Regions from separate parts of the Homo sapiens genome. Here region 2 is linked to region 1. Evidence: fine-mapped expression QTL. A gene starts in region 1. The other region holds a variant in brackets. All regions are shown on one strand. Distances are between the middles of the regions.

Evidence for each region. PIP is the estimated chance that this variant, and not a neighbour inherited with it, causes the effect.
Region 2: its variant is the best candidate, but not a certain one, in a credible set for the expression of ZSCAN20 in skeletal muscle (GTEx, PIP 0.57).

The regions. Positions count from the first base shown.
Region 1 is chr1:33,469,919-33,475,291 of GRCh38, reverse strand. It overlaps ZSCAN20 (zinc finger and SCAN domain containing 20), which reads right to left and starts at 2,647. Exons shown (of 8, transcript NM_001377376.1): 1 at 2,601-2,647. RefSeq lists a silencer at 4,390-4,684.
Region 2 is chr1:33,497,229-33,502,601 of GRCh38, reverse strand. ZSCAN20 (zinc finger and SCAN domain containing 20) reads right to left here. Exons shown (of 8, transcript NM_001377376.1): 8 at 959-5,373. Among named protein-coding and RNA genes, the nearest start is that of ZSCAN20, 27 kb to the right of the region's middle. The variant ACTGGGAC/C (reference allele first, on the strand shown) is at 2,198.

The DNA.
Region 1 (5,373 bases):
CTATATCCTCAATTACCTAAAGGGAAACTGAGTGTTTATGAAGATTCACTTAAGGTTACACAACTAGCAAGTGGTAGAGTTAGGGTCTAAGCCGAGATCCCTTTTCTCCAATCATTTTTCTTAACCATGTCTTATAGCCTCCTCTATGTGTGCTAGTCATCCAAACTCTTAAGATGACAGTACGGGAGAATGGAAAGAACATTAAGGCAGGAGTGAGCAGACTGGGGTTCTAGTTCCACTCCTGCCACTAATCAGCTGTGTTACTTTGGACAAGTTATGTAGCCCCTGTGGCTGCCTAGCTAGGCTGCAGCTTACAGCCTGATCTTACTCAGCAGTTGCCCTAGGTTCCCCAATTAGTATGATGGGGTAGAGCAAGGGAGAAGGGAGACTAGAGTCAGTGGCTACAAGTTTAAATGGGTATAAGGACCTAGCAATGTAAATGAGTCAATGACTGAAATGAACTGGGTGGGCACTACAGCCAACTATAGAGTGCCAGGGGAACATATGCCCAGAATATTCCTAAGCCTGCTGATTTTTCCAAAAGAAACTAGCACTCTGGATTTTTAAATGTTGGTAACCAACTCAAAATTTTTTCACACACTATGAGATTAAATAAAGCATGATGGTGGACTTCATTCAGCATGGGCTGTCGCTTTGCCACTTAGATTCAGCTAAGTGATCTCAAAGCTCTCTTCCAATATCCAGAAAGACCTAGAAAGAGTACAGAGCCTCCCAGGTCATGAGGGATAAGTGCTGACTGCCATCAAAATCAAGATGTCTTTACAAACACAGGGAAGCTGAGGGGCATCTTGACTCCTAGGGCAGTAAGTATGAACGTGGTCATGAGGAGCCCACTCAGTGAAAAGGGAAGAGAAGATGCTCTCCAGTTCCACAGGAAAGGCCAAGACTGGTCTGTGACCTCCAAAGAGAAAAAACTGGGAACTCTTAAAGGCTGTCAGGCCCATTTGGCTGACAGTCCAAGCTATGGCTTAAAGCAGTCTGACCTGACCTCACACATAAGGGCTTAAGCCAGGGAGAGCAAATAGGTTTCATTTAAAGCAGAAACTTCAATCAACTGGAAGTGGCTGCCTAGAGTAGTGTGCTGAGGGCTCTGAGTACAGTGTGAATATGTGCTGAGAACCAACCAATTAGCCATGACTGCCAGGGACACAGGAAGGGGCACTGGCAGCACACATTCCATGTATTTGTCACCCCTGGCTTAAACTCCCATTGGCAATGAATCAGCTTCAGCTTCCAGCAGATAGCCTTGCCAGGCAGAGGAAGACTAAAGCTCCTGCCCTGGAAATCCACTGGCAATAGAAGTCTTCAAGGCTGGTATAGCAAAGCTTACCCTGCATGGTCTTCATTCACACATACATACATCAAGTATTTACTGCTTTACATCAAGTGTTTACTGCTCTAGACTGGGCAATGGGGAAACAGAGGTGATTGAGACACTGTTCCTGTCCTGGAGATGTTCACAGTCTAATGGAAGAGACACACACTTCACAGATAATTATGATCAAATGTGGTAATAGGAGAAGTTATGGGAGCTGAGGGTTGGGGGTGACTTAATTTGCTTAAGGGAATTGAGCAAAGTAAGAGTTGAAATTTTTTTAAGTTAAAGAAGTTCTCTTGGCAAAGAAGGTGAAGGGCAAGGAGAGAATATTCTAAGCTGAGAGAACAGCATATATAATGATGGAAAACCAAATGGCCTACCCAGGAAACGAGGAAAACCTTGACAGCCCTGGAGTGTGAGGTGCATGAAGATTAGGCTGCAAAAGGAGTTTATGAAGGACAAGGTGTTTGGACTTTACAGGTGCTGGGTGCCAATGAAAGTTTTCAAGCAGAAGGCATAATCAGATTTGTAGGTGAAACAGATCACACTAGGTGCAATGTGTGTGTTCATGCTGGGAAACTGAAAAGGCTTCTGCGAAAACCCTACAAGAAAGAGGCCGACTGAAAAGATATTAAAGAAATTAAAGATCGGAAGATCCTTGGACGTGGAAGAATGCAAGAGGAATCAGTGGGTAAGTAGGTAGGTAGGTAGGTAAATGGGATGATCGTGCCACTGACTTCCATAAGACATAAGGAAAGAAGTGCAGGTTTGGGGCAGAACACAATAGCCAGTCCCATCCACTGGGTTCCAGAGGTAACAATCATTAGGGAGGTAACAAATTAGATATGCTTGTTCTAGATGGGAAGGTAGAGATTGAAACACTATTTTTAAGGTCGGGCTTCAAGCTCAGGCCCTCTTCACTTCTTGCCAGGGCCCCAGACCCTCTATCCTTTCCTCTGTGGTCTCCAGACCTTTCTATGACTCTCCCACCTCCAAAACCTCCCTCAACCCCCTCACCTTCAGACCCTTCTAAGGCCCTCCTCATTCCCAGGGCCCTCTATCGCCTCCTCATCCCCGACCCCTGTATGACCCTTCCCATCTCCGGCCTCTACATCCTTTGACCGTCCCTCACCCTCCACCCCCACATATAAGCTTCTTTCTCCCCTCTCACCTTCCCCAGCCCCCTGTGTCACCACCACCTCCTAAGTCTCCAGCCCAGAGCCTGCGTCTCAGCTGCCCCCGCCCCGCCACCCGGACTCACCCACCGAGACACCCACTTCACAACAGGGCGGAAGTGCTCCCGGGCTCGTGCGGGGAATGCTGGGACGCGGAGTCCGAGCGGCGCCACCCTGGGAATGGAACGTCTGAGACCACAATTCCCAGAAGGAACCGCGCGAGCGCCGGGGGCGGCCCCCTCCGTTTGCTGCCTTTCAGACGTCTTCAGCCAATAGATATGTCATCTTCTAACGGACCCTGGCACTGGAACAAATCGGAACGGGCGCGACACATGGGGGCGGGACCTGTTGCGATCCTGGCCTTTTCCATAGGCTTCCGGATAACAGCACCGCCCAATGGGAGGGCACTCGAGCAGAAGGGGGCCCAGTTCTACTGAGGGGTCGAAGTGAGAGCCTCAGACCCTGAAAGATCAAAGCAGACACAATAAGAAATAAGAAGAGAGAATGACTAGAGGTGACCAGCCCGATAGGCAGGAGAGAACTGGACAGTTGTAGCTTTAATTTCCAGCTTACAGCTAAGCTGTGTGACTTTGGAAGAATTCTGAACCTCGTTCTCTTCAACCATAAAATGAGGGTAGTAATGGCATCCATGTCACAGAGTTTTGTGAACTTTCAATGAGATAATACACCTAAAACGATTAGCTCAGGGCCTGGCTCCTAATAATGCACAGCGATTGTTAGCTATTATTATGTAAATCAGTTAGTACAGAGCTTGGCACTTCCTAGGTGTTGGAAGAATGTTAATCATTATTACAAAATAATCCTCATATAAATGCGGGTGCTCTGTACCACTGTGAATACTTTGGGGCATGAACAATCTAATGTGGTGTTGAGAATGGGGGCTTTGTAGTCAGACATGGATCCAAATCCCAACTCAACTACTTCGCAGCTGTGTGGCCTTGAACAAATTACTGCCATCTATTTTGTCTTTGGAATTTTCATCTATAAAATGCAAGTAATGTAAGAGAACTTACATCACAGGGTGTTATGAAGGTTAAATGAGACTATTTAGGTAAAAGTCTCTGAAGTCAAGCTGCTTGTGTCTGAAAGTTCTTACTTTCAAATGAAGGATGCAGGTCATACCACCCGCGTTGTGAAACCTTGGGCAAATTACTTAGCTTCTTTATGCCTGCATTTTCCCAGCTGTAAAATGGGAATGATAATACTTGCCTCTTCCTGAGACAGTTGTTGAGAGGAATAAATGGGAGAAGGTATGTAAAGAGCGTGACACATGTCTGACACACAGAAAGTGTTTAATAATCATTAGCTAGTCCAGGCACGGAGGCTCATGCCTGTAATCCCAGCCCTCTGGGAGGCTGAGACGGAAGGATCGCTTTAGTCCAGGAGTTTGAGACCAGCCTGGGCAGCGAAGTGAGACCTCGTCTCTATTTTAAAAAATAGAAAATACAATAATATACATAATCATTAGCTATTATTATTATTACCAATGGTTATGCGGCTTAGGGAAAATTGACAATACCTAGCATCTGGTAAGAGCTCAATGCATGTTGGCTAGTGTTAAAATAGGAGAATTCTTAGCTTTAACGACCCAGTTTAAATTCCTTCTCTGTGAAACATGTTCCAACTTATTTGTAGTAATAACTCATGTGATTTTACTCAGTAAACATAATAACAACCCGTAAATACTCCTTGGTGTTGAAGTCTCACAGTAGCCCTATGAGATTGGTATTGTTTGCTCCACTTTACAAAGAGGGAATGAGACTTAGAGAAACGAAGTGACCTACTCAAGATCACAGAGCCAATAAGAACCAGGGCTGCGATTTGTCACCCCCTAGGCATGTGACTCCAAAGGTCCTACACTGCATGAGGAAGAGACCATATGTGGAAGTAGGAGGGTTTGAGATGGGGAGGGACAGTGCAACAGTGTGGGGTGCCAAGGGAGCCGGAAACATTTGAGAGAGTGTCAGGATCTGAAGCTGGAGAGGCAGCTTTGCAGGGTCAGGTAAGGACGTGTCCACTTCAGCATCATCTGCCCTAAGAGGAAGAAGGGAGGCGAGTGTGCAGAGAGAGGAGAGGACATCATTAGGACACAAGAGGGCGCGCCTCGCCCTCAATACAGCCTCGAATTATTCTATGGTTTCCCTTAGCCTTTGTCTAATTAAAGCCTGGCATTCTACAGAAGAGAAAAAACTAACGAAGTCCTCAAGAGGCCAACTGCCCTTTAGTGCCGTGTAGAAATAAGCAACAGAGCCTGAACCTGTTCCAGGTTCTCTCTGGTTCAGCACCCATCAGGATTTGGTTTGCAAGCGTTCTGTCTGCATTTGTCTACCAGGACTCTCTCTGATTTGGGCAGACACTAGGCTCTAAGGATGCAGAGATGAAGCAAACCTGGTCTCTGACCCCAGGGCCTGATCTCTAAACTTTCCCAATAGAGCGCTCCCATAAGTGAAGCCTTTTTGAGTTTTTGAGTTGAGCACACACTCCCAACATATGTGTATTTATTTACTTATAAATGATGTGCCTGTAATAGCTAACTTTCCTTGAACATTTGCAATGCATTATTAGGTCCTTCTCTCAGTGCTTTATATGTATTAACTCATTTAATACATCCAAAACCCTTTGAGGGAGAGTCTAACACTATCCCATATTACAGAAAAGGAAACTATGGTATAGAGAGGTTAAATAACATGCTAACGGCACGTGGCTAAAAAAGCAGGCAGTCTAGCTTCAGAATAAGGTAAGATTTTTAAAAAATAGAAATAGAAGTTATAACAGTTTCTTTGCAACCATAGTGTGATAATCTTGTGCACTCAGCTTTGGAGACCACTATTTCTGTGG
Region 2 (5,373 bases), 27 kb before region 1:
GGGAAAAATCACTTATAAAACCATCAGATCTCATGAGAACTCACTCACTATCACAAGATCAGCATAGGGGTAACTGCCCCCATGATTCAGGTACCTCCCACCAGGTCCCTTCCACAACACATGGAGATTATGGGAACTACAATTCAAGATGAGATTTGGGTGCAGACACAGCCAAACCATATCAAGGGCCTAAAAGGCAAAGTTGCCTATATCTCATTCAATAAGGACAAAAGAGTGAGCGTGTATTAGGAAACTTCAGCCTTGAGCTACAGTCTTTTGAATGTCCTCAGTAGGACAATGGGTGGAGGAAGGCCAGAAAAGAATATAAAGACGCTCCAGCTCTCCCCTCTTTCTCAAGTACGAAGTGCGATCAGTTCTGTTCCTGAACCAGGAAGCAAATGAGAGGAATCAGGTAAGTTTCAGCCCCCTGGGAACTCTTTCCTATGTTTTCATCCATAATTATCCTTGTGTTATTTGGATTTCAGACACCTCTGGTTTCCTAGCACAGGGATCCTGAGGGACATATCAAAGTAGATGCATAGGGACCAGCAGACTGAGATGCCACTCCTCCCTCCAGGGGGCCCCATGGAACGCAGGGCCCTCACTGGCCCTGGGGACTGGGTGACGTCAGGGGTGAGCCTCTCGTGATTGGCTCCCTCACCCTGCGTAAGATCAAAGGGACAAAAGGACAGCCCCGACACCCGGAGCCACTGTGGCTCCGGCCAGTTGCACCGGCCACTGAGGCCATGGCTCCTGGGGTTGTGGACATGCCTGAAGAGCCACCCATGTCTGAAGGACCACAGGGAACAATGAAAAGAAGACACCTGCCCAGCACAAGGGGCTTGAGACCTTGGCCCCAATCTCCCTGACAACCTGTGTCTCGATGACTTCCCTTCCTTTTCTCCCCCATGCTTTTGGTGTAACCAGGAAGAAGCCAGAAGAATCGAAAACACATTCCTTTTTTGGCAGTTTAATATAATTTATTAACTTATCAGGCCATTCCATCCCAAAATATGATTTGACCAGCTTTAAGAGATGTACATAACAGCACAAAAAAAAAAAAAATAACAGAAAATGGGGAAGTGAAAGCAAAGCCAAATAAAATGAAGCCAGGGATTGGTCCACAAATTGCAAAACAAAAGGGCCTGTTCAGGTTTTAGAATTGGACATTAAATCCCTGAGGCTCCTGATGGACAAAATTTAATCCATTTTAATTTCACAGTCCCTAAGAGGGAATTAAAATCAATTACAAATGTCTCATTTCCATAAATTAGTTGGTCGAGAAAGGTCCCTGGAGATGACACCTGTGCTTCTCCAGGACACACCAACCGGGTTTAGCGTGAGCTCCTGCCCCTACTACTGATGCTGGCGCTCCAGCCTAGCTGGCCTTACCTCTCCATCTATTTCTGGGAAACTTCAGGAACAGGGTTGGGTTGGCGACCTCATACGTGGTCATGAACAAGCCCTTTCCTCTCAAGTGCTGTCCACAGAGGGATTCTCTCCTGCCTTGCCCCCTGGGTGAAGTCTGCAGTGGAGGGTTTCAAAGTGTCTCACCACCACTTCCTGCTGGTCCCCAGTGCCTATAAATATGCGGAAGCTTCTCTGTGGTCCACGAATCCCCCCAAAGCACTGAAGCCAAGTGTGTTCTATGTGGAAGGAGAAGACTCCTTTCTCCTTTGTGCCACATTTGTCACCTGCCACCAAGTTAGGGCTCCCTGAGCCCCAGTGACTCGAGATTCTAGTAGTCACAACTCTGCCAGCCTGGGCCTGTGGCTCCTCTCCTGCTTGGGCTCAGATACATCTGTCATGCTGCTCCAGGACCAGCTTAGAGACTGATTCTTGTTTTCCTGATCCCCCTTCCCGTGGCCCTCGCCCTCTAGGGGGCACAATTTTTATGGGATATTTTTCTACAATGAAAATGTAAAAAAAAAAAAAAAAGTGACTTTAGAAATAAGTATCATGTAATAGCAGGCATGATCAGAAGCATCTTTACACACAAAAAGAATCACCAACAGCGCCCTCATTAGAAAATCAATGTCTATGTGACTCCCTAGTCGACTATAGCATGTTTAGGTAAAATTATCTAATTGTATTCTTCTTTTTACTCTTCTAATGCTCTTGACTTAACCAAGTGGCTCTTAAAACAAAGAAGCTCTCAGCTTTGAGAAGTGGGGGAACCAAACACACACTGAAAAGA[ACTGGGAC/C]CTCTCAAACTCTCTGTCTCTTCCTCCAAGCAGCATAAAATGGGGTTACTGGGGTGCAGGCTCCTGTAGGGTTCCTAACAGAGACTAGGTGAGAGATGCGGCACACGGAGGTGAGGAGAAAGGTCACCCACTCAGCTGCAGCATGGGGTGGGGGAAGCAACAATAAGGTAAGGAAGGAACCTGCCTTTGCCCCCCGAAAACATGCATTTATTTGGAGGTAAGTGCAGGCTTGCTGAAAGTCAGAGGGAGGGCAAAATGATGCTAAAGACATGCTAGCAGTAATAGTGATGCTGGGAGTGTGAAGAAACAGCCAGGAGCTGTGGGGGAAAAGGATCCAGTGTCTACCATCCCAGGCCTCCAGGCCCATTTCAACTCCCTCCTCTCCTGTAAAGCCTTCCCTGCACTCCCACTGCATGGAACACTAACCCCTTGTAGCAGATTGGGGCAGGGGCTTGAGATTGGTGTTTGCTATTAACAGGTGGGGGAGCTGAGCAATGCCCAAATGGAGGATGGGATCAAAACTGAGGTTAAGGGGAGCTTTGGGAGGCTGAGGTGGGAGGATCGCTTGAGGCCAGGAGTTCAAGACCAGCCTGGGCAACACAAGACCCCCATCTCCCCCCCAAAAAAAATGGGGTAAGGGAATATTTTGAATGATTAATTTTGACTTTAGATATTGACTTCATTCAGAAAGAGACCTCTCAGGCAGCTGGGTAACTCCAGCCCAACTGGAAATGCTCTTAGAAGGGAGAAAGTATTGGCAGAACTGAGTCCAAGATGAGTCCAATGGGCAGGTCTCTCCAGGCACGTGCAGGGGAGGCTTGGATGGGAGTCACTGAGTGTGTACATCAATGCACGTGCTGAATGGGCAGGCCAAGAGCCCCATGATGGGTGATGGTAGACACCGGGGCTTTGAGATGCCCAGGAGTCACCCAAGCACAGCTGGTTGGCAGGCAGCTGGGATCCTAAGAGGAGAGGCCACAGCAGGACACAGATCTGGAAGTCATTAGCATCTACACAGAAGAAAAGAGAGAAAGAAAGGAAAAGAAAAAAAGAAGAGAAAGGGAAACAGAGTGAATGAAGAAGCAAGCCTAGGACAGAACTCTGGAGTACAAAGACCCAGAACAGCCTGGGTGAGGCAAGTTCACCTGCAACACCCACACCCACTCCAGACATCACTGCCTTCATTACTTCAAAACTGCACCCCTGTCCCCAAAGGGTGTTACTCCCCTACAGAAAGTGACTCAATTCTTTTCTGCAGCCCGAAAGCAGAGAGCTATCCCCACTGGGGGCCCCAGAACAAGATGAGGCAGGACGGACTACCCAGAGCGCCTGACTACATTATTTAGCATGGAGGGACCCTAGCTGCTTTACTCGGCTTCTGGGAGGAGGCTACAGTGGACAATAAGGCCAAGGCAGCCATGACCATGAGTTCAGCTGCTGAGGTCAAGGCCTTAGAAAAAACCGAGTATCTGAAAAAGTCTTGGCCCCTCCTTTCCCTGCCCCTACCTTTGGGTCTGCTGCCTCTGGGGGTCTGAGGAATGGGAGGCCTAAGGTCCTTTAGGTACCTTTTTGTCCCTTCAGAGGAGCCAATGCCCTTCTTGAGGTGGAGGGTGAAGAAATCAAGGGGAGGCAGCCATCTGGGGAGACGATCCTGCCTTTAGCAGCTCACATGATGTAACACCCTCCCAGGGCAGCATTTGCTGGTTTGGTTTTCCATAACCAGGGTCTGACCTGTGGCCAGGAAGGCTGAGAAACTGTCCACCCATTCTGCAGAGTGAATCTACTTCCCAAGAGCAGAATCACGCTAGCAAAGCTCAGGGTGTGTAAAACCAGATGTCAGTTTATCTGAGCAGCACAGACCTACTGGAGGGCGCCTGGGTGCCCAGCAAGCTCTTGGGTAGACAGCAAGCCTGGAACACTGAAGCCCCCTGAAAGAGTGCTTCTTCCAAAGGAAGTCAGGTAGACAAGGAGGAAGGGACCACCTGGGCCATTTTCTCACCTGGCCCACACTGGCCTTGCTTTCATGACTGAACCTCTATTAAGATTCATGAGACAAGAATGGCAGATAATAAACATCAAAACTGTTCACTAAAGATATGAGACACTAACACACTACCAAACCCAGGGGAAAGGGTGACCAAGTGGAGAGAGGACTACCACCTCACATCCACACAGAGCTCAGCTTGACTTCCACAGTGAGGGCTCCAGAAAACTCAGGGCTACATGAAGAATTCAGGGGTCAGTAACAAAGAAGACAGGGTCCAGAACATGATGGTAGTGGGTGGGAGTGGGGAATGGTCTAGATCTCCTTTGAGGGCCATCTTCCTCTCCATTCAGCACTATCAAGTAGCTCTGTCCTAGGCCCAATATTTGAAACTGAAATTCTTCCTTTCTCATTAGTTTAACTACTTCGCATACACAGATCTCTAGTCCTAGCCTCTCCCCTAGCTGCTAGCCGACATCCAAATGCATAGCATCACCATGATTTCCCTTAAGCACCTCAAGTTCTAGACATACCAAACTAAACTTCTCATCTTCTGCCCTCCTGCTCTATCAGCCTCTCCTCCTTGTGCTCCCAATTCTGAATGAGGACATGCTCTACCCAGTCACCAAAGGCATTCTAGCTTTCCTCTGATGTCCTCCCCTCTGCCTCTGAGACCTTTCCCATTCATTCCCTCCTCCTCAGTGTCACCACTGCTCTAGTTCAGACCCTAGCCTTTAGCTGAAATACCACAACAGTGTCCCAAAAGGCCATCCTAATTGCAGCATGTCCAAGTTCCATTCAGCTGTCAGATTTCAACCATGCACATCTGAACATTGCCCCGGGCCTGGTGTTGACACTCCATTCACATGTGAGGTCCTCAGTGACCTTGCTCCAGCACTCCTCTAATATCAGCTCCCTGTTCCCAACCTCCCATCATACAACCCCACCCTGAATCCATGCTATTCCACACAACAGTGCCTTTCCCTGGAATTCCCTCCCTCTCCCTCACCTCAGGATCCTTCCTCTCAGCTCACATTACTAGACAATATCACTGTATTACTGCAGTTACTGACATCTGCTGACTTCTATCCAGGGTTCATCCCATGACCCCTGCCCCGCAGAGATAACGTGGGCCAGAAAAGGTAAACTGGGAGGGAGTTGACGGTGATCCTAGTGGGGCTGGTT